2 separate regions of the Homo sapiens genome follow, and region 1 is linked to region 2. The links come from fine-mapping of genetic effects on gene expression. A gene starts in region 2. The other region holds a variant in brackets. All regions are shown on one strand. Distances are from middle to middle.

Evidence for each region.
Region 1: its variant is fine-mapped to the expression of WNT5B in lymphoblastoid cells (GTEx, PIP 0.97).

What each region holds. Positions count from the first base shown.
Region 1 is chr12:1,531,395-1,543,072 of GRCh38, forward strand. LOC107984507 (a long non-coding RNA gene) reads right to left here and starts at 798. Exons shown (of 2, transcript NR_160736.1): 1 at 712-798; 2 at 1-377. RefSeq lists enhancers at 2,164-2,363, 2,514-2,663. The variant G/A (reference allele first, on the strand shown) is at 3,879.
Region 2 is chr12:1,616,477-1,632,385 of GRCh38, forward strand. WNT5B (Wnt family member 5B) reads left to right here and starts at 12,755. Exons shown (of 5, transcript NM_032642.3): 1 at 12,755-12,895; 2 at 14,822-14,958. The coding sequence starts at 14,879. RefSeq lists silencers at 13,673-13,862, 13,893-13,952, 13,907-14,201 and an enhancer at 14,383-14,482.

The DNA.
Region 1 (11,678 bases), 87 kb before region 2:
TCGGCTTTGTGCTTCTCCGGTCGCTCCGGCGCTCCACGTCCCCGCCGTGGGAGAGGCGGGACGAGACCTCCTCCTTCACTTTCTTGGAGCCTCGGTGGACGCGTAGCCCGCGCTCCAGTCGGAGCCGAACCCCCGGGTATTTGCTGCAGACCGCTGGGAGAGGCAGTTCGGTTTGCGGGGAGCCTGCCCGGCCCTGTTTTACAGGGAGGGAAACTGAGGTGGCCCCGGCCCTGCGTTGGTTACTCAGCTGAAGGGGTGTGTGTGTGTCCGGTGTCCCCTCCACTTCACCCGGGCCCTTCTTCACTGCTTTTGCCACCTGGCCACGTTGGCAACAGCTTCCAGTTGCTACTCCCCTGGGCAGAGGTTCAGCCTGGTACCTGGAGGAGAAAAACTAGGGATCGTGGAATCAACCCCCCAGACTGCTCCAGGGGCCCCGGAATGTGCCCAGTCACCAGAGCTGCGATGGGACGTCTGTGCCCGTGCCGTCAGTGTGGAGCCGAAAACCCTGGCTCGGCAGGGCAGGGGCAGCCGCTAGCCAGCCACCAGCACTCGTCCAGGCACACGGGGGAAGCCTAGGGAGCCCCCTCCTGTGGCTGGCCCCTAAGGCAACGGAGAGCCCAGGCAGCAGCGGGCACGCCCTCAGAAGGCCTAAGGACCCTTTCCTGCACCCAGCCTCTCCTGCCATCCGATTAACCGGCAGAATTCACTTACGCAAAGGCAAGACTCCCCATCTCAGGCACAGACGAGCGGATGCCAGACCTGGAGCTTGCAGCCGCACCCCTGCCTAGGCTCACACACACAGGTCCTGGCAAACACACCGACCTATTAGAGGTGGAAGACTGAGGGGTGGTTTTCCTCCATCTCAAAATAGTGTCTGTTCTCGCTTTGACACACAAGATTCGTGGTTATAAATAGCAAGAAGGAGGAGGTGTGTCTCCTTGGAAGGATGGCAGTGCTGAAAGAGACCTCTTAGGCACCCTTGTGAGAGGAGTGATGGAGCTGGCGTCTTCATGGTGATGACAAGTCCAGCAGTCCAAGGGAAGGGTCACAATTAAAACCAGGGCTTTTTACTAACAGATGCAGGTGGCGCGGACAACAGGGCAGGACGTGAAGGGAGTAAAGGAACCTAAAGTGACAATGGATGGGTCAATACCCAAAGGCAGTCAGGAGAGACATCTCCCCTTCCCTTTCTTTCTCTTCTTAAAGACAGTCAGGCCAAGGGCGTGTGACACTCTGTGGGATCTGCCTGCCAGGGGAGCAGGAGCCAGGCTCGGAGGAGCTGGCTGGTCTTTTTCCACCCATGGATTTCATACTTTCCCAGGCTCTGATATCTTATGTATTTGAATATGAATAGGTGATTGAGCGTGTGTGTCTGTGTGTTTCTCCAAGGTATCTGAAACCGGTCCCCTCTTTAGTTCATTTGGTGATTGTAATATCACCAGGGGTTTCTTATTGACTTGAAACTACCCTTTTCTAAAATTTTTTCTGTCCAAAAAGCATAAGTTAAAGGGATATTGCCAAAATTGCTGGGAGCCATATGCTGCGAAAAGAAAAAATCTGGAATTCTTCTTCCCTTGTGTATTTCACCCTCTGACTCTAGGGGCAGCTGAAAGATTTTTTGTTTGCTCTTCTTCAAGGTCAAGAAAGGCAGAGGACTAGGCTGGTCTGTTCTAATTTTTAATTCTAGGATGGTTCTGCTGCTTTCTGGATTGCCGCAGCCTGGCTTCTCTAGCATGGAGGGAAGTTTTTACGTGTGGTGATAGTCCTTGTCTTCTCTGAAATAGAAACCAGTCAGTCCAAAAAAGCTCTCGTGTCAGCGAGAGCTTTTTCTCTCTGGCTCCTTTTCAAACCGCCTGCCATTTATCTCCTTCATCTTCTAACCAGGTCTTCAGAGCCCATCTTTGCTCCAGCGCTAGTCCTGGATGCAGTCCTCAGAGTGTGTGGTCGTGGTGGTAGTTACTGGTTGTTGGGTAACTCCATCAGGTCTCTGAAGACACACAACAGCAGTAGATGTAAAAGCCCTCTGGGCAATGAGAGCATGTGGGAGCTCCACTTACGGGCAGCCTTGGCTGGTTTCTGTTGAGCGTCTTCACCGTTATCTACGAGTCCAGAAACATCCAGCAGAGGGATTGTGCATCGATATTGCCATCAAGATGAAAAGACATGCTCATTTTAAATCTGAGCCACCCTTTAAAGTAAAACTAACCTTCTGTCCATCTCTGGGGCGCAGCCTGTGTGCTCCCCCAAGCAGCATGCTGGAGGAACCCTGAAAACGGATCCGCTGTTTGGTACAGTTCTGGCTGGACTGTTCCCTTCAGCGAGAAATGCCCCAACTCTGGAGAGCAGGTGACTGCACAGCCCCTACCAGGCCCTCTCCACCCCTGGCCCGGCTCTGTTTACCTGGCTAAATTTAAACCTCCGCCCCCTCCATCCCAGTTTGAGCCACTGGCTTGCGGTCTCGCCACTGGGCTGGCTGCTGCGGCAGCATTTCCTGACTTCTTCGCCCCTGTGGTTGCAGTGTGGTCTCTTTGTGCTGCATGAGTCCTCTTCTAGGCTTTCTAAAGTTGGTCTCTCTCCCCGCTGCTTCTCCACCCATGTGGCTTTCTTCCCATCTCTTTCCTCCTGGGTGAGTTGGAACCTGGTTCGGTACTGGGGGAAGATGCTCTCCCCTAACCCTTCCAGATACTGTGCACGGAGATCACAGGAAGCCTAGACTCAAGCTGTCATTTAAGGTCCTCAGGGGGCTGTGCTGACTGTAATCATTACCCAGCCTGGCTGCCGGGCTGTCGGATCCCCTTTGAGTAAGCACGTAGGGTGCTGGCAGCAGTGCAGCCCTTAAAGGGACAGGGGCATTCTCTAAGGTCTTTGGCACCCCAAACCTCCAGCTCCCCTAAGAAACCAACCCACCTGGATGTCCTGTCCTTTGCATCACTGTCTTTTCTTGAGGTTTTGCTGGGGAGGGTGTTTGAGTGGGTTGGGGTGCACACGGTAGCTTCTCTCTGGATCTCAGTAATATTTTCTTTTCTTTCCTTTTTTTTTTTTTTTTTTTTTTTTTTAACAGGGTCTTTCTCTGCTGCTCAGGCTAGAGTGCAGTGGTATGATAATGGCTCACTGCAGCCTCGACCTCCTGGGCTCAAGTGATCCTCTCACCTCAGTCTCCCCAGTGGCTGGGATTGTAGGAGCCGTGCACCACCATGCCTGGCTAATTTTGTTCTTTTTTAATTTTTTGTATAAATTGGGTTTCACTATGTTGCCCAGGCTGGTCTTGAATTCCTGGGCTTAAGTGATTCTCCTGCCTCAGCCTCCCAAAGTGCTGGGATTATAGACATGAGCCACCTTGCCCAGCCTTGCTTGTCTTTTCTATAAAGTGAGAGCATTGGGTTAGTTGGTCCCAGGGGCCCCTTCCAGCTCTAACATCCTGTCACTCTGAACAGCTCGAGCTCTTTCAGGTTTGGGAATCCCTCTGCTGTGGACAGGCCTGGAGTGTCCCCACCAGAGGGGTGGGGGGTGCTCTGGGCCTGCTGCTTTCACAGAGTTACTGTTTCACCAGCCGTGGTCTCAGAGGCAGGGTTTGTGGTCAAGCTGGAGGCTCAGGTTGTGCTCCTGGCTTTGGGCTTGGGCCTGCCAGGGGCCTCTGTGGTTCGCTGGCATCTGGGAGATTATGACAAGCCTCTGTCTCCAGCTTTGGGTGACTTTGGGGCTGGTGCCTGAGTTCTAGGGGGAGGCACCCCAACCTTTCTTAAAGGGGTATACAGTCTCCTCTGTAGCCTCCTAGAGCCCCAGAAATGCTAACTCCTAAAAGGTTACTCCTGTCTGATTTATACAGTGGATTTACTGAGGCCTGGGAAACGATAGCTGGCCTTGGCTTAGAAAAGGCA[G/A]TGAACTCAAAAGTTCTTGGTTTACACACTTTAGCCCCCAAAAGTCACTTTAGAGTTATCTGCAAATGATTAATTGTTGGATTTGCTCTGAGTCCTGTTGTGGAAGCAAAAACTGTAACATAAAAATATAATGTTATGAAAAATCTAAAGTAACAAAGCTTTTCTGAGGCCAGCTCGTGGTCATCCTGTTTGCTGCTCTCAGTGTGGCTCCTCTTAAAGAGGTCAAGCCCAGAACCGAAGGTGCGCAGCCACAGAGCAGCCCTGAGCTCCTGGGCTCTTGCTGGTGTCGTGCCTTCACTGGTGACACTTCCTGAACTTAACCAGTGGATGGACATGGGCAAGAGGCCAGTGGCCCCGCACCCATTTTTCTTACCGGTGAATATCCCCCAGATGACAGGAGGCTTGTCTTGCTCTGGGAGGTTGGGGCAAAGTTGAGTGCCTGTCATAGACTCCTCCCTAAGGTTATAGATTTCACCAGTATTTGTTGAGAAGTTTCTCCTGAGAAATTTTGAGTAAAGAATTACTGAATTTTCTTAGAAATCTTGTTTGGGGGTATGAGACCTGCAATCAAAGCAATTAAACTTTTAAAGAGATTGTGTATATAAATTGAGAACTAGAATATCACCCTTGGGAGCGGGGGCTGGTGAGTGAAGGAAGAGGGGGCATTTTCAGTTGCATTGATAGGGTATATGCTGGGACGAGGAGGGCTTTTGAGGCAGACTTCTGGGTGCAAACCCCAGCACAGCTGCGTCACCTGAGGTAGGGCAGGTTACCTGACTTCTCTGTGTCTCTGTTTTCTTACTTGTGTACTGGAAACCGTAACTTTATACCTATCTCTATGTGGTATGTGGTGGTTAGGACTAGTGTACATAAAGCATCTGGACCATGCCTGGAGCCTTGTGGGGCTCTAGATGCGACAGCTTTTGTGGTGATATTGATGAAGGGAAGGAAGAGGGAGGCAGGTCGATGGGAGAGGAGAGCTCAATGCTGACGTGGTCCTGCGCAGTTGAGAATCCGGCGAGTCCCTGGCTGAAAAGGAGGGGGTCCTGCTGACCCCATCTCAGAGGCATCTGTCGTTTTAACTAAGCAAATGCTGATATGTTCCCTGGATTTGGAAGTCACCCAAAATCTTAACTTGTTGCATTTTGTTATTCTTAAAAAGGTAACCTCTGTGAAGTCATATCTAAAATCAGCTTTAGGCTGGGCAAGGTGGCTCACGCCTGTAATCCCAGCACTTTGGGAGGCCGAGGATCATTTGAGGTCAGGAGTTCGAGACCAGCCTGACCAAAGCTCATCCTAAGCTCGGGTGATCCTCCTGCCTCAGCCTCGTGAGTAGCTGAGACTACAGGCACGCACGACCGTGTCCGACTAATTTTTAAATTTTTTGTAGAGATAGGGTCTCATTATGTTGTCCAGGCTGGTCTTGAACTCCACTTCAAGTGATCCTCCCACCTTGGCCTCTCAAAGCTCTGGGATTGCAGGTGTGAGCCACCACTGCTGGCCCATTGCCTCCCCTTTGCTGTACGACCTTCACTTGGCTTCCAGAGCATCTCACTCTTCCAGTTTCTCTTCTTGCTCATCGGCAGCAGCTCACCTGGTTATCTCTTTGGACCTCTTGTCTTCTCTATGTACAGTTATACGCTGCATAAAGATGTTTCGGTTAATGATGGACTGCATAGACCACAGTGGTTGCATAAGATATTTCACTGTGCCTTTTCTATGTTTAGATTTGTTTAGATACACAAATACTTACCACTGTGTTCCAGCTGCCTAGAGTATCCAGTACAGTCACATGCTGTGCAGGTTTGCAGCCCAGGAGCAATCAGCTAGAGCATCTCACTTGGGTGTATAGTAGGCTCTACCATCTAGGTTTGTGTAAGTTCACTCTGTGACACTCACACAGTAATGACATTGCCTAATGACACGTTTCTCAGGATGTATCCCTGTTGTTAGGCGACGTGTGACTGTACTGTACACTCTGATGGTTGTAAGTACTGTCTCTACCCTTAGGAACCTCATGGTTTTGTGTCTTGCCTGCTCCTCTCTCTTGAACTCCAGACCGGTGTTGCTGAAGCAGCACCTCCTCTACAGAATTACATGCCTCTGAGCTCGTCCCTGCCTTCCCATAGCCCTCTCCATCTCATCCTCCTTGTTGCTCATGCTGTAAACCCTGGAGTCAGTCTTGACTTTTCCCTTCTCTCCCTTCTGACATCGAATCCATCAGTGATTCTTGCCAAATCCAAATTCAGAACGTTCTCAGCACCCTGATGACTTCTCACCTCCTCTACCCTTCTCATCCCGGCTCATTAGGAGGCACCTCCTAATTGGTCTTTCTGAGTTAGTTAGGGCAGCAATCCTGTGTGATATGTCAGATCTTGTCACTTTTCTCTTCAAAACCTTCCAGTGGCCTTCCATCTCATGCAGGAGAAAGCCAAGTTCTCACACTGGCTTGCAAGCCCTTGGTGGGCAGCCCCCACTTACCTCTGCGACCTCACCCTAGCGAGGACTTCTGTGACTTTCCTATATAGATCATAACCCTTTCATCATTCTCTAGCCCTCTTCTCTGCTTTATTTCTCTCTGTTATACCCATGGAACATACAGGTATTTTATATTTCCCTTATTGGTCCTCTGTCTGCTTCCCCTTGCTAAAACAGAAACACCACAAGGGCAGGGGTTGTTGTCTGTTTTGTCCACTGTTGTATCTTAAAGAGTACATGGGACAGTGCCTGACACGCAGTGGGTGTTCAGTGAACATTTGCTGAAGGACTTAAGTGGATGAAAGACAGCGGTTTCACCTGTTGGCAGGGAAGAGTGTTAACAGTGGGAACAGGCTGAGCGTGGTGGCTCATTCCTGTAATCTCAGTGCTTTGGGAGGGATGGCTTGAGGCCAGGAGTTCTAGACCAGCCTGAGCAACATAACAAGACACCCATCTCTACAAAAAATTTTAAAAAGTATCTGGGTGTGGTGGTGAACACCTGTAGTCCCAGCTACTTGGGAGGCTGAGGTGGGAGCATCCCTTGACCCTGGGAGGTTGAGGCTGCAGTGAGCTATGACTGTGCTGCTGCACTCCAGCCTGGGTGACAGAGGGAGACCTTGTCTGAAAACAAGCAAACAAAATCGTAGGTTCTTCCTCTGCTCCGTTGCTCCCTCCCCATCTTGGCCTCCTTTGCCATACCATAGAGGTGGGGCAGCTGGCGAGAACATGTGGCCCTGGGATATGCCTGTTTTATCAGAACTGATGAAAGTATAACATGTTCACTGAAAAACATTGACTTTTTTTCATTTTTTAATTCATTCATATTTTCATTGAAAATATGAAGAAAATGATGATTTTGAGTTATCATTGGTAGGATTTTGGTGCATTCCTTTTCGGTTTTTTCTGCCTGTGTGTACAAGCACACATGTATTTACAGGCTCAGGTGTGTGTTTCCACACATGCGCGTCTCCTCCGGACAGGTGGTGACACCTTGAGGGCCAGCACCGTGCCTGTTCTCCTCCTCTCCAGCTCCTCTCTTGAGCCTGGCGTGGATCGGGTGCACACAGTGGTAGATCACAGGGATGGCTGGACAAGTGCGTGATCTGTTTCCTGGTGAGCACCTGGAGTCCATGCAGAGCCAGTCCCTGTGATTTCTTTGCCTTTTTGGTTGATGAGCTGCTGGGTAAGGGCAATGTCTTCACCACTTTTGTTTCCTTAAGGTTGTTCAAGAGTCAGGTTTCTCAGCCCCGACACCATGGATATTTTGGACCCAATAATTCTTTGTTGAAGAGGGCTGCTCCATGTATTGTAGGATGTCTGAGAACACACCTGGCCCCTACCCACACGATGCCAGTAGCACCCCACTCCGAAGGATGACAACCAAAAATGTCTCTGGACATTGCCAAATGTCCCGTGGGGAGAGCGGGAGGGAGCAGAGTCACCCTGGGAGACGACCGCTGTTCCAAAATGCCTCTGTTTTTTTCCTGACAGTCTTCCCTTGTTTTTGTTTCTCCTAAATCCTGTGGATTTATTATCCGTTTTACATCCTATTTCCATGCTACTGCCGAGGGCAGGCCGTTGGGGAGCTGATGTGAATTATGGCAGCAGCTTTCTCACTAGCTGTTTGTCCCTGGGCCCACCCTCACAAGGCCATCTCTCCCGCTGCTCCCAGGTGGACCATGCCGCTACCCTCTTCACCCATGAACGGCCACCCTGCTGATTAAACAGGTCCTCAAGTTGAACGAGGTGTCCTGTAGCAGAAGAGGTTTTGGTATTTACTGTGTAGTTGGGGTATCAGCCTTCCTTGGCTAGTCTGGCGGTGATTTTCAAGCTTTTACAAGTCTTTGCGAGCCCGTGCTTTCCGTCCTGTCCGGTGGAAAGCGCATGGCCTTGAGGCTCAGGGGGACTTCGGTTTAAACTAACTCAGCTGTTCAAGCCTAATTGGCTTGCCTTGCCCATTTAGGTTTTCTGAACTCCAGTTTCTTCACTGTTTAAACAGGGATAATAATGCCCAACTCCTAAGGTCATTTTTGAGAATGAAATGTGATAATTTTGTGAATTAGGGCAATGCCTAACATGTATCATGTACTTAGTCAATGTTAGGTCCCACTTTAACACTTCATTGAAAAAAAGTAAAAGTGTCAAGAAATTGACACCTAGATTCTGAAATACCTTGTCGGAATTTAGGCAGAAGATCAGAGTGTTTTATAATTTGGTTTATTTTGATGATTGAGGAGACAAAGGAGACCTGAGAATTCACTTCCATGACAGCTGCTTTTACCGAAGACCTGTTGAGAGGTCTGCAGCTCCAGGCTCTTGGACTTTTCCTGGACAGTCCTCCCAACCAAGAGGTGGGTTCCTGGATGGCAGGAGTGATGTCCTCCTTGTCTGGGCTCCTCTCTCCTCACTGATAATCCCACCACTCGGCGTTGCTGCTGCTCAGCCATATTGACACGTTAATGAGCTAGTGACTTCTAAACAGGTTATCCTCCCCGGTTCAAGAAATCCAGCCATAATTACCATGTTTCATCGATATTAAGATGCATTTCAACATATCTGAGGTCAGAATGCATCTCAGAATCAATATTGTATGACAGTTTGATGACAAGTACTTTTCTTTCTTGGTGGTACAAAATAATGGTGCATTCTAGAATCAGTAGCATCTTAGGTTTGGTGAAATAAGGTAATTGATCACTGTTTACTAAGGGGACCTGTTGTCATTTCCTGGTGCCTAACTTGGTGTTCACTTGGAAATGCACTTTTGTATTTTGCCAAACAGAATATTTGTTTCCTGTCACCTTCAAGTTGAACATCTATTAACCATGTTAAAATTGAGAGAGGAAATTCTAGGCAAAAACTGGACGTCCCATGGACCCTGGACCCTGATGCTTGAGCCTGCTGGGCTGCTCGTGGCCACCTGGGAATCAGCAGTCCAGGATTTCTGCCCTTGCATTGCTGAGAATCTTGAGCAAATGTGCTCATCACTGCCAGTCTCCCTCTTCTCATTGGTACATGGAGTCACAGTGTAACCCCTTCCTATCTCATAGAACCGCTAGGGTCAAGCGACATGGCGTGTAGGGAAGTGCTTTATACCCAACGGTAAGAACAACGAAGTGCTGTTCCTACCTGATACGCAGAAGGGAACTGTGACCCAAAGACTTGTTTAAATTCACTGACAAAGCACAGCTCCAGGTGACTCAGTGTTGATTCATACCTGGCACTTGTCTTCTTATTTGTCTATTTCTAGGAGAGAGACTTTGAAATTATAGAAACTTGTCTGGTGAGATGAAATAGTATCCCAAAGGATCAAAAAGAAGTTACATCCTAGAAGTAGAATGCAAGCTTTTTTTTTTCTTTTTTCATTTTATGCTTTCCTGTTTCACTGCCTTGGCACTGGAAAATATGGGGTAAAATGTTGTTAACATTAACACAAATATATTTATCATGAAGAGTAAATCTAATCTCTTATGTACAGTGTTTTAAAAAAATCAAGTTCTGGCCAGGCGCAGTGTTTCACGCCTGTAATCCCAGCACTTTGGGAGGCCGAGGTGGGCGGATCAGGAGGTCAAGAGATCGAGACCATTCTGGCTAACATGGTGAAACCCCGTCTCTACTAAAAATACAAAATTAGCTGGGTGTGGTGGCGCGTGCCTGTAGTCCCAGCTACTTGTGAGGCTGAGGCAGAAGAATCGCTGAAACCCGGGAGGCGGAGGTTGCAGTGAGCCAAGATCGCGCCAGTGCACTCCGGCCTAGCGACAGAGCGAGACTCCGTCTCAAAAAAAAAAAACAAAAAATTAAGTTCTGCAGTGCAACAGGTGCTGGCTCAACCCTCGCCCCAAAACCTCATGGCAGTGTGACCAGCACACACAGGTGACCTTGAGGCAAGTCAGCCAAACTTGCTTGACCTCAGTTTCCTCACCTGCTAAAATCTTAAAAAGCTGTTGTGAGGATGACATGAAATGAATAGAAAGCACTTACGTTATAAATGCATGCAGAGCCTTGCACTTAGAAAGCACCAGAAAATGTTGGCTCTAATTATGCTTCTGAACAACCACAAAACGCGCTATTGTGCAATTGCCAGTGACTGGTTCTGCCGACAGAATCAAAAGCTTGGTTGTGTCTGGGAGGAAGGAATGAAGTGGTGTTATTTTCATACTTAATGCTGGCGTTAATAAGCTACACACACATGTCAATTTAACAGTAGTCTGACCTAAATAATATTGCATTTTCGACACATACAGCATGTTATACAGTAACCAAATCAAGAATCCTGGTCGAAACCTTACCAAACAGCTTTAAAATATTTCCTTTCAAATGAGATTCTTGAAGTTCACTGTTACCCACTCCATGTGCTGAAGTCTTAAGCAGCATCCTACTTTTATGCTTAAAAGCCTAGGAGACATGGCCGGGCATGGTGGCTCACACTTGCAATCCTAGCACTTTGAGAGGCCAAGGTGGGTGGATCACCTGGGGTCAGGAGTTCGAGACCAGCCTGGCCAACATAGTGAAACCCTGTCTCTACTAAAAATACAAAAATTAGCCTAGCCGGGCATGGTGGCGGGTGCCTGCAATCCCAGCTACTTGGGAGACTGAGGCAGGAGAATCATTCGAACCCAGGAGGTGGAGGTTGCAGTGAGCAGAGATCGCACCATTGCACTCCAGCCTGGACGACAGAGCAAGAGTATGTCTCAAAAAAAAAAAAAAAATAGCCTAGGAGACCTGCCCTCAAAAAATATGCTGTGGGGAGATGGTGTCCTGCTGATCTCTCTCATTCAATATGGCATACAGACTTCTGAGAAGTTACCATGAACCTACTTTCACAGTTGAGGGCTAGGGAAAGTCTTATAGTGTGAAATTCATTAGCCTCATGCGCTGTGTGAAATTCATTAGCTTCACACACTCTGCCCTCTCTGTATTTCTTTCTCCACTCCCCACCCTGTGTTGCCACAGCTGAATGGTGGAGGTACTATTGACTTTTTCTTCTTCATCAACTTTATTGAAGTATAACTTACATACAGTAAAATTCGCACGTTGTACGTGTACAGGTCAATAAATTTGGACGAATATACACACCCATGCAACACCACCCCAATCAAGATACTTCTGCTTTTGCAGAAATCTCCTTGTCTCCCTTCCCTGTAGCCACACCCCACCACCACCCCAACTCAGGCACCCACTGACCTGATTTGTGTCATTCGAGATCACTTTAGTCTGTTCTAGAATTTCACACGAATAGATTTATACCAGAATTATGGTTTATTTTTCAGCTTTTTGGTATTTGGCTTCTTTTGCTCAGCATAATATCTGTGGGATTTATCTAGG
Region 2 (15,909 bases):
GGTCTGAGGTTTGCTAGCAGGGACTCTAGTTTTGGCAAAGGGAATGTGAACTGCTTAGCATTGGAGGGGGAGACAGGAGAGCTGACCACCTTGGCTCTGAATGTTCTCATCGGTGAGGAAGGAACTGGTGCTGTGCCTGAGTGGGCGTGAACTTGTTTTGCCTGTGGTTTTCTTTAGAAAGCTGCTTGGTTCCTCTTCTCTCAAAGGATTTGGAAGGTCTTCCCCGCACAATCAAAGGAGCAGTTTGAGACACAGGGGCGACAGCTGGGGACAGCATTAGAGGGACCCACATTACTTAGAGCTACTGGTTTCCCCCCAGATAAAAACCCAGGTGTCGTTTCTGCATGAGCAGTGAGTGACGAGGAGAATTCGCTTGCAGCCTCTCCGCTACGCTCTGCCTTTAGAGTCCCTCTAGCCGTGGTCCCTGTGTTGCCGCTTGCCCCTGGGTACCTGACTGATGAAGACAGGCTCTGGGGCTCGCCGTTGAAGGTGCTGTGGACCCAGGGGTGCTGTCCTTCCGCTGTTCCATTCATTGCAACATTCATCTCCTGCCTGTTTACAAAAATGAAGCAATTATCCTATTCTTCCAAATGGAAACTGCTAATTTTTGAAGCAGAAGGTTGACAGCTTCAGTAAGATCTCAAGAGAGCGAGAAGACTGGAATCAGGTGAGGCCATAACTTCTTATCTAAACTTAGTTTCTGGGGTGGAATTACAGAATTGCTTAGAAAAAGAGTCAATATAACTACTTGCAGAAAATACCACCTGTAAAAATCCAGATTTATAAATGGTGACTATGCATTTAGTACAATGATTATCATATATGTAATATATAAAATATATATATAATATGTATATTGAGGTCCCTTTAAAGAACAGCATGATGGGCTGGCTCATGCCTATAATCCTAGCAGTTTGGGAGGCTGAGGCAGGTGGATTGCTTGAGCCCAGGAGTTCAAGACTAGTCTGGGCAACATGGTGAAACTCTACAAAAAAATACAAAAATTAGCTGGGCATTGTGGCATGTGCCTGTAGTCTCAGCTACTCAGGATGCTGAGGTAGGAGGATCACCTGACCACAGAGAGATCAGAGCTGCAGTGAGCCATGATCACACCACTGCAGTCCAGCCTGAGCAACACAGTGAGACCCTATCTCAAAAAAAAGAAAAGAAAAAGAAAAAAGAACTGCATGGCAAATTTGAAAGTCTTTTGGAACATGACTTGTGAATGCTCCAAACATTCCAAAATGAATGAGTGAAGTAGCCAGGAGAAAGACAGCAGAGAGCAGTGGGGATTTGGGAAAGTTAGAGAACCTGTGTGCCACCCACCAAGACATTCATATTCCAAAGATTTGTAAACATTGTGTTAGTCAAAGACACTTGGGCTGGGCGCAGTGGCTCATGCTTGTAATCGCAGCACTTTGGGAAGCCTAGGAGGGAGGATTGCTTGAGGCCGGGAGTTCAAGACCAGCCTGGACAATATAGGGAGACCCCCATCTCCACAAAAGAATTTAAAAACTTAACCAGACACAGTGGCTTACACCTGTAGTCCCAGCTACTCAGGAGGCTGAGGTGGGAGGATCGCTTGAGCCCAGGAGTTCGAGGCTGCAGTGAGCTGTGATCATGCCACCGTACTCCAGCCTGGGTGACAGTGAGACGATGTCTCCAAAAAAGAAAAGACAGCTAGCTGACTGCCAGTTGGTGATCCTGGTTTTAAAAGTTGCATGGTTTCCCCAGGTCCTTTAAAAATACGCTCCATTTTGCAAACACAGTAGTACCTCTACTTGGTAGCACAAGACACATTTTTATTCTAATTAGCGCATGGCATAGAGAGAGGTTATCCACCTGCCCTTGGTGGTGATCCAGAAGTCCATTTATTTACTTCATTCACTCTAAGTAGACAGGAATTTGCAGAAAACAGTAGCAATTGCACAAATAAATGTTTTTCCCCTATAGTACAATACCCCAGAACTCTAGATCTGGTGAAAATAGATTACTTGCAGGACAAGAGCATCTAAACACCCCTCAATCCTCCAGCCCTTGAAAACAAAGTCCATAGCCTTGTTCTCTTGAAACAATTCCTAAACCACACTGACCTGTGACCTATACACTTCTGCCTTCTTTTCTAGAGCATATTTTAAAACTATTTTATTAGTATTCAGGAGAAGGGAACTTCCTCTTTCTTATCATCTGCACAGAATAAGACTTCCAGTGGACTTTTGCTTGATACCTGGGGAGAAAATTGTGCTTTTCCAAGTAAGATGAGTCATCTGAGATCTGCCATTTCTGGGAATTGTACAGGGACCCAGAGTCTTAGGGATCTGCTCTGCCTACTTTGTGGAATTTATTCTCACAGTGCATGAGTTGGTCACTTTCACACTGCTCCAGGCACCAGGAGTTGGAAGCTGGAAGCTCTATTCTCTGGAACATCAGGCATTAGATTTTAGTGTGAAGGCCTCAGGAATTGTTTCTGCGCTCCTGCCACCCTGCACTGTGATTGGGTCTGTTTTGCTATATACTTCCCAAATTGTGTACCTTATCACTGGGAATGGCACACACATTTCTGGGGAAGGGTAGTTTAGCATTTTTCTTAAGGGCCAGAATTTAAATCTCATCACTCCTACCAAGCCCCCAGCCCCTCCCACCAAGCCCCCAGCCCCTCCCCACCCCTAAGACATTTCTTCTCCTGCAAGCCAGAGAAACAATGAGAAAAGACACAGAATATTTGGGAGATGAGGCTTCCCAAAGGACTGCTGCAATCATGGTGGAGCTGATACAACCCTCTCCCCGCCCAATTTTTTATTTTCATTTCTACCAACTGTAGATTATGCATACACACAAGCAGATCACACAAAAGAATACTATGCCTCAGGGCTAGGAGGATTCATTGAGCAAAGCTTGGAAGGAAGAACTAGAGAGAAACCTAGAGACAGAGACCCTCGGGAGAAATAATTAAGGCTGGCAGGGAAAGGCTGTGTTAATTGAGCTGAGAAGAAAGATGAGCATCCGGGGATTCTCGTAAGAGGTGGTGGAATTTGCAGATAAAGTCATTGGTACATTATTGGATTCATCTTTGGTTACTACTTTTTAAAAATGTTTTTTGGGGAAGAATGCTATCTAGAAAAAAATTCATGCAAGAGAAACAGATAGCTACAGAACTAAATAGTAATAACTGACCAAAAAAAAAAGTGAGACAGAGGGTGATTTTGCCATATCCTCATTTCCTGGACTGAGCAAGAGAGGAAGCGAAATGCTGAGTCGGCTCCTGGCGTAGCGGCTGCCATTCATGTGCCGTTGATCCAGGCCTGGCACTGCGAGAGCAATACCCATTGGTTTGCACAGAACTCCCTCCCACCAGCCCCACCTGCCCTCAAATAGTCATCCCACGTGGTTGTCTCTACCTAAATTTCCCAACATGTTTCTTTTTGAGTATGAGGATCTTCTTTTTTAAGTCAAAAAATAAAAATAAAAAAGGTCACATGCCCCATGAGACCATAATTGTACTTTCCGCCAAGAAAATATAATATATAAAGACCTTCAAGCCATTAGGTATTAATATGACTTTTTTATTTTTAAATATTTTTGTTGTCTAATATAATGCAGAAAATTGCATACAGCATAATACATGCACAACTTAATAAACTGCTGTAGTGTGAACTGCCACATATCCATCACCAGGTTGGAAAATAGAACATTGCTGGTATCCCAGGAACTTCCTCGAGCCCCTTCCTCATCACAGCCCCCTCCCTTGGAAACCACTCCCTGATGTCATCATTTCCTTGCTTGCTTTTCTTTATGGCTTAACCACCAATGTGTGGGTCCCCAAACAAGATAGTTTTGCTATGAATGGAACCATAGTTCATATACTTTCTTGTGACTTGCTTCTTCTCAATATTATGTTCAGAAGATCCATGCATGTGGTTGCATGTAACTTGTAGTTTGTTTTCCTTCCTGCATAATAATTCTTTGTTGTAATATATCACAGTTAATTGTTTTGTCCATTCTATTGTTGATGGATATTGTTGCTTCTGGTCTGAGGCTATCAAGAGTGCTGCTATTCTTTTGTTGTTGTTTTTTTTTTTTGACATGGAGTCTCAGTTTGTCACACAGGCTGGAGTGCAATGGCGCGACCTTGGCTTACTGCAACCTCCGCCTCTTGGGTTCAAGTGATTCTCCTGCCTCAGGCTCCCAAGTAGCTGGGACTACAGGCACCCGCCACCACACCCAGCAAATTTTTTTTTTTTTTTTTTAGACGGAGTCTCGCTCTGTGGCCAGGCTGGGGTGCAATGGCACGACCTTGGCTCACTGCAACCTCCACCTCCCGGGTTCAAGCGATTCTCCTGCCTCAGCCTCCCAAGTAGCTGGGACTACAGGCATGCGCCACCACCCCTGGCTAATTTTTCTATTATTGGTAGAGACAGGTTTCACCATGTTGGCCAGGATAGTCTTGATCTCTTGACCTCGTAATCTGCCCGCCTCAGCCTCCCAAAGTGCTGGCATTACAGGTGTGAGCCACCGCGCCCCACCCTGTTATTTTGAAAGTTAGAGAACTGCCATGGGGAAATTCATTTATCCTTTCAAGAGATAAGAATGGGACATAAGATATTGCAATTTGTTAGAGAAAAAGAGGTCAATTAGCAGGCTCTTGTAGTAGCTCATAGTATGACAATAGGAATGTTGAGTAGGGAATATATTCAAAAAACACTATAGAGATACAATCAAGAGACCTTGGCAATTGATTTGACGTGGAAGGCAAAGAAGAGGGAGGAGTCACAAAGGATACCAAGATTTCAGGCCTGGATACAGGAAGAGAATTGGAAGACAGAGAACACGCATGATTGATATGAAGGTGTGTAATCAATCAGCATTTTAACTTCTATATTTGGCTCTCTAGGAAGATTCACTCAACCCACATTTTATGATCAAAAGGACAGTATCCAGGGTGACTGGTCCCCTATGTCTTTGACCCCATTCCTGCAGTGTTGCCCCCAGAAACTGGAAGCATGTCATGATGGGAGTTTTCCTGGGTAATTGATGCTGAATTATCAATGGGAATACCAAATCAGATTTTTTAAAAAGTTAATTTAACATTTATTATTTTTAGAGACCTCTGTCATCCAGGCTGGAGTGCAGTGGTACAATCATAGCTCACTGCAGCCTTGACCTCCTGTGATCCTCCCGCTTCAGCCTCCTAAGTAGCTAGGATTACAGACATGTGCCACCATATCCAGCTATTTTTTTTTTTTTTTTTGGTAGAGATGAGGCCTCACTATGTCGGCCAGGCTGGTCTCAAACTCCTGGCCTCGAGTGATCCTCCCATCCCGGCCTCCCAAAGTGCTGGGATTACAGATGTGAGCCACCATGCCTGGCCCCATATTAGATTTTGGAGGGACTACATAAATTTCACGAACAAGCAATTCTGAAAACAGTGGAAATTATTGAAGTCCTCCTTCATTGCACTATCTCTCCTCTTCTTCGAAAAGCACCTTGAAATTTTCTCTTTGACCAAACCACATCTTCATGTGAAATCCTTTCTGCTGTTTTCCTCCTGTTAAAAGCCCTCATATTCTTCAAGGCCCTACTCAAATCCCACATCCTGAGTACAGCTGCTCCCTTAGGCTCTTCTGACACTTCTTTTTTTTTTTTTTTTTTTTTGAGACGGAGTCTCGCTCTGTCGCCCAGGCTGGAGTGCAGTGGCGTGATCTCGGCTCACTGCAAGCTCCGCTTCCCGGGTTCACGCCATTCTCCTGCTTCAGCCTCCTGAGTCGCTGGGACTACAGGCGCCCGCCACCACGCCCGGCTAATTTTTTGTATTTTTAGTAGATGACACTTCTTATAGTGTACTTTTCTGGGCAGGTTTTCTGTTTTCCCCAGCTAGACCAATGCACCTTGGGGCACTCCCCAAGGTCTTACACATTTTTACATTATCTTATTAAGCAGTGCCAGCCTTTACTCTTAGAAGCTGAATGTTACTTATGTCTTTGAGGAAAAGACAGAGAGTTATGTCTGGGACCAGGAATCTCCAAAATCTCAATTAGCAGTGGATTCTCAGATAAGGGGAGGTACAGTCAAGCAGCTTCCTCACAGCAAATGGACCAAGTTGTATGGAAGTCGAAGGGACTCTCCTTGTCTTCATGAGAGGCTGGCCTTCGTGGCCTGCTTCCTCTTTCCCTGAGAGCCAGAGGAGGGCTTTTCTTTTCTTTCAGTCAACAAATATTTTTCTAGCAACTCCCACATACCCCTGTGTACTATCCTATCCACTGGGGAGAAAATGGTAAATAAGACCGTTTCCAGAGCATATGAGGGACAGAAACAAAAGCACAACAGATGAGCATGCCACACTATTCCATGTCACATTAAATGCTGTGGCTAAAACATGTGAGAAGCTAGAAATAGAATGATGCTGCTGGGGGCCTTCTTTGGCAGAGATGGTTAGAGAAGGCCTCTTGGAAGGTGTGGCCTCAATGACAAAGGAGCTTGCTCTGCACAGAGAGAGGAGAAACCATTCCCAGAAGTCGGCAAGGCACAGCGGGGAGAAACAGGATGGGTTTGGGTAAGGAGGTATCAGGAGTTTGGGGTTCTAAAGCACAGCATGAAATCCTAAAGAGGATGGAAAGGTTGGCGGGGCCAGATTCTGGAAGGCGTCATGTAATGGGGTGAGGAGTTATGACTCATCCTTTAGGAGATAGGAAACCTTTGAAGGGTTTTTTGTTGTTTTTTTTTTTTTTTTTTTTTTTTTTGAGACGGAGTCTCGCTCTTTAGCCCAGGCCGGACTGCAGTGGCACAGTCTCGGCTCACTACAAGCTCCGTCTCCCAGGTTCACACCATTCTCCTGCCTCAGCCTCCCGAGTAGCTGGGACTACAGGCGCCCACCACCACACCCAGCTAATTTTTTGTATTTTTAGTAGAGATGAGGTTTCACCGTGTTAGCCAGGATGGTCTCCATCTCCTGACCTCGTGATCCGCCCGCCTCGGCCTCCCAAAGTGCTGGGATTACAGGCTTGAGCCACCGCGCCCGGCCTCTTTGAAGGGTTTTAAGCAAAGAAGTCACATGGTCAAATCTAAGCTTTGAACAGAGCTCCTCGATCGCTATATCTACTGAAAGGCAAGACAGTTTTGTGCTATCGAAGTAAGAGCCTTTCTTGCTGAGGACATAGTTTCTTGGTGAGTTTCACTGTTAAGGCCAATCTAAAATGTCCCTCCACGTTCTCTCCAAACCTTATGTTTCTTCACGTGCACTCTGTACCTCACCTCTGCATCTTCCATGAGCCCCTCACACCAAACCAGGATCCACCCTTCCAGACCCATAGCTCTTGACCTGGTTTGTCTTTTCCATCCCAAAGTAAAACTAAGTACCAACTCTTTAAAACTATTATGTTTTAATTCCTCCAGCTTTAAGCAGCCTGGCCTGTTCTCAACCCACATATCATTTTGGCTAGGGGAGAAGTCTAGTTCTTTCCGCCCACAAGGCTGTGTGTGTATCTAAGTGTGTGTATTAATACTAGTAACTTTGCATGTTTTGTAAACCTTGCTTTTTGTGATATCTCCTGCATATCAGAATGTTGTTTTCTGACTTTCACACTATTCGCAGCCGTAGTAACAGGGCAATGGTGCAACGAAGAAAAGAAAGAGGCTGGGTACCGCGGCTCACGCCTGTAATCCCAGCACTTTGGGAGGCCGAGGCAGGTGGATCACCTGAGGTCAGGAGTTCAAGACCAGCCTGGCCAACATGATGAAACCCATCTCTACTAAAAATGCAAAAATTAGCCGGTCGTGGTGGCAGGCACCTGTAATCCCAGCTACTCGGGAGGCTGAGGCACAAGCATCACTTGAATCGGGAGGCGGAGGTTGCAGTGAGCTGAGATCATGCCACTTGCCTAGGCAACAAAGTGAGACTCTGTCTCAAAAAAAAAAAAAAAAAAAAAAAAGAGAAAGCAGAGAAGGTGTTATGCTCTAGTGACAGGGAGGACCTGTATTTGGGGAAGAGTAGAAAGATCTGGATTCCAAGCCAGGGTCAACCATTCAATTGCTGTATGAACAAGTACTTAATTTTAGTTTCCCTGTTTTCAAAGTGAGAATAATAATGGCATATGCCACAAATGTTGGCAGAGATTAAATGAGAAAAATAGATGTGAAACATTTAGTGCAGTGCACTAAGAGGTGCTCAATAAATGTTGATTAATACTAGCTATTGTCACTGGTTATCAATCAAAAGACATTTGTTACTGCTGAGTAAAACCATACTGGGCGCAAAGGGGCTCGCAGAGAAAGTAGAAAAGGTAAGTTTGAACCTTTAGGAAGCATTTGATCTACTAGAGAAGTAAGAAGTATATACTTCACCTGAGAAACAGCCCAAGGCAGCATAAGTGGGGTAGGGAGGTGCAGACCAGATACATGGATTCATAAGGGCCGAAGAGGTTGAGACCTCTTCGGTCTCAACCCATGAGAATGAGATTCTCATGGGGTGGGGTTAATCAAGCACAGTTTTATGGAGGGAGTGAATCTTGAGCCTGGATGTGAAAGTAGTTTAATATCTGGATTGCTGCAGAGCAGAGGAGAATGCTTCCTTGGGAAGAGGATCAGAATGAGGTCTTGGGGGAAAAGTGGGGTTTGTTCTAGGAGTAGAAGGACATTGGAAAAGGAGACTTCATGTTGGGAAATTCAGGAAAACAATGAGAGGTAAGATGAGGCCACATTGGAAATAAAGAACTGGGAACCACTATACGTTTTCAAATAGGGGAATATTATGATGTAAAATTAGTATTTTAGGGAAAACTGGTATTGTGTCTATGTGCACTTGTGAGTGAGACCACGAAGAACTACTCTGGTGTTCAGATGCCAGAAGGGTGAGTACTCACCTGGAAATTGGGAAGGAAATGAGTGAACCTGATGTACATTTTAGGAGGTATTTGTCTATTGTGCTGAGGTCCATAAACAGTCTTTCTCTACAGTACGAGAAATGAGTGGCCAAAGGGAGAGAAGCCACAGGACTCCAGCTAGCAAGGCCTGCTCCTCCTCCACCTGCCCCTCCCCTGTCCCATGGAAATCATCCAGTCTGAGGCCCCTCCTTCAACAGCAATGCAGCCAGGAGTTCACAAAGGGAAGCATTTCCTTTCCAAAGACTGCTAAGATGGTTTACCCTGTTATGCCAGGAATGTTAACAAAATTGCAAATGTACTTTTATTCTTTTGTTTTTTCTCTTTTTTTTGAGACGGAGTCTCACTTTGTCACACAGGCTGGAGTGCAGTGGTGCAATCTCGGCTCACTGCAAGCTCCACTTCCCAGGTTCAAGCGATTCTCCTGCCTCAGCCTCCCAAGTATCTGGAATTACAGGCACCCATCACCACGCCCAGCTAATTTTTGTATTTTTAGTAGAGATAGGTGTTGCCATGTTGGCCAGGCTGGTCTCAAACTCCTGACCTCAAGTGATCCACCTGCCTCAGCCTCCCGAAGCGCTAGGATTACAGGCATGAGCCACCGCACCCTGCCTGTTTTTTTTCTCTCTCTTTTTTTTTTTTTTTTTGAGGCAGGGTCTCAATCTGTCACCCACGCTGAAGTGCAATAGCACAATCACGACTCACTACAGCCTTGAACTCCTGGGCTCAAGCGATCCTCTGGCCTCAGCCTCCCAGGCACCACCATGCTCGGCTAACTTTAGATTTTTTTGTAGAGACAGGGTCTCACTGTGTTGCCTAGGCTGGTCTTGAACTCCTGGGCTCAAGCAAGCCTCCCACCTCAGCCTCTCAAAGTGCTGGGATTATAGGTGTGAGCTACTGCACCTGGCCACAAGTGTATTTTTTTTTTTTTGAGACAGAGTTTCACTCTTGTTGCCCAGGCTGGAGTGCAATGGCGCAGTCTCAGCTCACTGCAACCTCCACCTCCCGAGTTCAAGCAATTCTCCTGCCTCAGCCTCCCGAGTAGCTGGGATTACAGGTATGTGCCACCGTGCCTGGCTAATTTTGTATTTTTAGTAGAGACAGGGTTTCTCCATGTTGATCAGGCTGGTCTCGAACTCCTGACCTCGGGTAATCCACCTGCCTCGGCCTCGCAAAGTGCTGGGATTACAGGCGTGAGCCACTACTCCAGGCCAAGTGTATTTTTTTTTTTTTCAGACGGAGTCTCACTCTATCGCCCAGGCTGGAGTGCAGTGGCACGATCTTGACCCACTGCACGCTCCGCCTCCCAGGTTCACGCCATTCTCCTGCCTCAGCCTCCTGAGTAGCTGGGACTACAGGCGCCCGCCACCACACTGGGCTAATTTTTTTGTATTTTCAGTAGAGACGGGGTTTCACCGTGTTAGCCAGGATGGTCTCGATCTCCTGACCTCATGATCTGCCCGCCTCGGCCTCCCAAAGTGCTGGGGTTACAGTTGTGAGCCACTGCGCCCGGCCGCCAAATGTATTTTTAAATTACACATTCTATAGCTCCCCACTGGGTGACCAAGTAAGAGTGCTTTTCTTTTCTTTCAGTCAACAAATATTTTTCTAGCAACTCCCACATACCCCTGTGTACTATCCTATCCACTGGGGAGAAAAATGGTAAATAAGACCGTTTCCAGAGCATATGAGGGAAAGAAACAAAACCACAACAGATGAGCACGCCACACTATTCCATGGCACATTAAATGCTGCGGCTAAAACATGCAAGAAGCTAGAAGTAGAATAATGGCGATGGGGGCCTTCTCTGGGAGGGATGGTCAGGGAAGGCATCTTGGAAGGTGTGGCCTCAGTGACAAAGGAGGCCTGCTCAGCACCCTTGAAGAGGTCCCCACCTAGGCTCGTGGCTATTTCTGGACAGGTTTCTGGATGTGACGGTGCCTGTCTGAGGAGAGGGGCAGATGTGGGAGGTGGCTCCATTTCCTGCAGGAGTCTTGAGATGCTTGAGTCCCTGGGTGCTGGGGAAGTCAGTTCTAGATATCAGTGGGTTTGTGTGAATGGCTAATGACCTGAAATCAACCCCTCATCCTGTGGGGCAGAGATGTTGTTTCAGGCACTGCTCTGAAGTATGGTGGAAAGCACAGAGTTGCTTGGGGTCTCAGCTTTACCTGTCCCGGTCTCTCTTTTTGGTCTCTTAACTCTAGGCTGGATGGACATGGCCCCTTAAGGAAATGAAAGTGAGTGACTGAGTCCTAGCAGAAAAAGGAGGAGATCTTGGAGTTCCTGTCTTCCAACACGCACCTCTTTGGTTGTGATGGTGAAGTGGGACAGTGCCATCTCAGCAGGGACCTTGGATGTGCTCTAGAGGGGGTCTTGGAGGTGTAGCATCGTTACATCCCCTCCCACCATCCTGCCTACACAGTGGTTTTGGGGGCACAGATATTTCAGAGAGTAGTCTTCCCAAGAACCCTACATCAAGTATGCTACCACCCCTTCCCATTCTTGATTCTGGTCCCCTCTTTATTTTCCTCATAGTATTCACTGGACCTAACTTATGATACATTTGTTTGTTCACTGCCATGTCTCTGGCACTTAGAGCAGTAACTGGCACATATTAGGCACCCAGGGTGTAATTCATTTGATTAATGAATGTATTGAATGGCTGCATGGATGAATGAAGAGGAGGAACAGAGCAGATGTCTGACCAGCTCATTCTGGCTTCTGGAAGGATCCTGATTGGGAATTTTGCATCTTTCCCTCCCCACAGCCTCCTAGTCACTACTACTAAAGAATAGAGACCCTGACTCCCACTTTTTTTTTTTTTTGAGATGGAGTCTTGCTCTGTCACCCGGCTGGAGTGCAGTTGTGCTATCTTGGCTCACTGCAACCTCCACCTCCCAGGTTCAAGCGATTCTCCTGCCTCAGCCTCCCAAGTAGCTGCGACTGCAGGCATGTGCCACCACATCTGGCTAATTTTTATACTTTTTTATTACAGGTGAGCTTTCACCATGTTGGCCGGGCTGGTCTCGAACTCCTGACCTCAGGTGATCTGCCCACCTTGGCCCCCCGAAGAGCCCCGCATTCTTAACTACTGTGTTTGGTATGTTTGAATTGACACTTGCCTCTTAGGAAGGGGAATCTTTTTAGACCCTGGGGAAATCTGTAGTTATTGCAAAGGCCTTTTCCTGCCTGTTGGGCATTTACCAGATCTTTCTTCCTACACAAGGAGAGCCTCCCCTGGTTGAATCCTGCTATAAATCTCACTAGTGACCCACAAACAGGGGTCCCAATGTGACCTGCTCATTAACACAAAACCGTCAGCCCCCATACAGCTTCCTGCCTTCCCAGTCGGGTTGAGGCAAGAAATTTCCATTCTGCCCATGCTGATGAAACCAGTCGCCAGCATTTACCTTTCTAAGGGGTCCTTTCTCCTCCCACCCCAGCCCACCCCAGCACAAGAATGTAAGAGAGGGCAAACAGCTGCCTGGCTTCAGTTCTATGGCCACTCAAGAATTGGCTCGCATCTGTCTGCCAGGACAGAGAGCGTCCTGAGGGGGCTGGTGTGTGTGTTGTGTGTGTGTGTGTGCACGCGCGCGTGCATATGTGTGTATGGGGGAGTTCAGTTTCAGGTACCACACATCTGGAAGTCAGAGAAAGAAGCCACTGCACATGTTAGAGCCATTTTGGGGGGCAATTTTTAAAAAAAAAAACATTTTTAATGGGCTGAGAGCCGCCTCGTGGAAAGCCCGGGGCGGGGGATGGAGTAGAAACAGCTGCGGGAGTGATTCTTGTCTCCATATATGTTTATAAGGCACTGAGGGCGGGATTAGCAGCTCCTGGGAAGTCTGGCTCTAGTTACCGTGTCAGCCTGTCCTGGGGGCAGTCACAGCCACAGTGACCATTAGCAGGCACCCAGGCCTGTCTTTGGCTCGGAAACGGTGGCCCCCAATGTAGCCTAGTTTGAACCTAGGAACTGCAGGACCAGAGAGATTCCACTGGAGCCTGATGGACGGGTGACAGAGGTGAGAGGCACTGGTGTGAGGGACAAGTGTCACAGGCGGGGAGGAAGAACTCCGCTATCTGGTGGTGGAAATGTGTGAGGATCAAAGTCCCCAGGGAGAGTAGGTGTTGCGGGCGGCAGGGTGGTGGGCTGGGCACGGGCTGGGCATAGGCTGGGCAGGAGGCTTCGGGGCCGCGGGGAGGAGGCTGGAGAAGCAGGAGGGCACGGGCGGCCCTAGCTCTGCAACCCCGGGAAGGACTGGTAGGTGGAGTTAAGGATATTTGGACAAGGAAACGCTTTGAAGCTTTTCTCTCGTCCTCCCTACTCGGGACCTGGTCGCCTCCCCTCCATAAAACCATTAGCTCCTGGTGCCAGCCCTATCTCTGCTCCATCTCTCGTGGTTCCAGCCGGTGCATTCACAGACCTTCTGCCCCGGGGGACGAGGAGGATTTATGGGGGGAGAGGAGAGGGGGAGGGGCATCCTCCAGAGGAGGGGGGGTCTGAGGGGAGTCGGGCGTGGAAGCTGTTAGTCCCGGGCTGGGGGCCGGCTCACTTCCGAGCTGGCTCTGCATGACAAAGGGGAAGGAGCAAGTGTCTTCTTTGATCTGCCCCCTGCCGGCCCCACACACCTGCCTGTTGGTGCCCCCGCCCCAGCCGAGGCTTCGAGAAGGAAAATCAAAAGGGGGCTTGGGGAAGGGCTGTGTCCCAGCTCTCCTGGACCCTGCTCGGGCCACTGTCCTCTCCTGGCGGCCCCAGGACAAAAATACTTCCCGGGCTGATGACCCGAAGCACCCGCCGCCCCCTCCCGGGGAGCCTGGGGACGCCGACGCGCGAGAGTGGCGCAGTGAGCCGGGGCGCGCGGGGCTGCGCTCGTCAGGTCCGGGGCCCCGGGGAGGCCGCTGGGGGCGCGGGTCACGCCCAGACGGGGGCCCCGGAGGACCGCGGGGGAGCCGCAGGGGCCGTGTGTCCCGAGGCGCAGGCTCGCTCTAGCAGCACTGACCTGCTGCGGGTCCCAGGGCCTGGGGACAGGGGCTCTCGGGGGCGGATAGAGGAACAGGCGTGGGTTACAGCAGGCAGGAGGCCAAGAGGCGGGAGGCCCGGGAGCCAGCAGGGAAGGGCTGTGGCATCTGGAAGATGCGTCCTCAGCTCAGGCATTTGATGCCAGAGCTGCCGCCTGGCGTCGGCAGTGTCCCCGGTGCAGCTGCTGGGCAAGGTACTCGGTGCCGCCCTCGAGGACCACGGTGCCGGGAGGGGCAGGGGCCGCCTAGGGAGGCACCACCTCAGCCGCCAGAGCTTTCCGGGCGGGCGGTTCGCGGCGTGGCTTGTACATTTCTCAGAGAAGCTGCCTTGAGAAAGTGAAAAGTCCTTGATCTGTACGCAGGGGTTGGGACTTAGGAAACCCGCTGAGGGTGAGAAGGGCGCAGATGGAGAGGGGAGACTCCTCCCTGGGTGCAGGTAAATCCAATTCACCAAAATGTTTTAATCCTACAAAGGAGAGCCTGAGGGTCAGAGAAATAAGTCTCTGGGCTGGAATGAGAGGTAGGCACGTGGGGGAGTGGATAGGATGGGCCCCATTTCTTTGGATGTTCTGCAGCAAGGACAGGTATGCTTTACAACAGCCGAAGTGGCCTCCCGGCTGCCGAACGGAGGAACGCCGCAAGCTCCGCTCTTGAAATTACTTGTTTTCATTTCTCTTTGTGGTTTCTCAGCTCATTATTTCTTTGGAAATTAGGTCCTGTGCAGGGTTCCCACAGTTTGGGGTAAGAGACAGAAGTCCTAGGGTGGGAAGATGAGCAGTGGGAGGCGGAGGCTGGAAAGAGGCCGAGCTTCTTTGTGGGGAACACGCAGCACGTAAGCATCAGTGCAACTTTCTCCGCCTCACCCCGGCTCCTGGTCTGCCCTTATCCGCTGAGTTTCCACACTGACTCTCCATTTCTGTTTTCTCCAGGGAACCCTACTCTGGAAACTGTCAGTCCCAGGGCACTGGGGAGGGCTGAGGCCGACCATGCCCAGCCTGCTGCTGCTGTTCACGGCTGCTCTGCTGTCCAGCTGGGCTCAGCTTCTGACAGACGCCAACTCCTGGTGGTGAGTAAGAGGGGCTGAGGTCCTGCCTGCACAGCCGGAGGCCTCCTTCAGCGACTGAGATGAGGAGGAAGGGCACCGTGTGTCACGGTAGTACCTTGATTCCTGGGAGTACTAAGGGCCTCTTTTATCCCAGGAAAACTAAGAACGCTCTGTGTCTCTCTCAACCCTTATCTTTGTAAGGGTTCCCTGAGGATAAAGGTTCCGTTCATTTGATTTTTTTCTCTAATCCTGTCCACATTCCTTTTCCTTGGACCTTCCCTCATGCCCATGAATTGTTAGAAATTGCTCTTGGGTCAACAAGAATATCAATACTTGGTAGTTTTTTGTTCCTTTGTTTTGTGTGTTTTGCTGGTAGGATATAGAATTCCTCTTTTATAAGTCTGAAGGCCAGATGAGGGGTTCACAGCACCATGGGTGGCTGGCTTTCTTCTTATGTTTTAAGGGCTGTTGTCATTGCCAAGTTGACAGGGAAATGGCAGGCGATCACCACCTATTTTGCATGGTCTCTGCCACTAGCATTTTTACTCAGATAGCAAATCTGCAGCCTTCTCATCTAACACTCTATATGGCTGGTAGATGATGAGCAAAAGGGAGAGCCTCTGAACTGGTGGAGAGTGGATGAGGGGAAGCTCAAAGTGAGACATGGCAGTGAAAACAAGTAGACTAGATCGTGATGTATGTAAAGTGATTGGATTTTAAAGGCCCAAAGGGAGTACCACGCAAAGGATTGATTGCTTTCCATGGCTTATCATGTACTTGGGCTGCACTGAACTAGTCACTCCTACTCATTGAATGAGGCCTGTGCTCTCCTGTTGAGGTTTGGCTCTTTTTGCCCTCTATTAAAATGAAGAGCTGCTCCCCACCCCTCGTCTTCTTATCTGCCTGACCCCCATTCTTAAGATCCAGTTCAAATTCTGGCCATTTCCTTATAAAGGCTTCTCTTCAGCCATA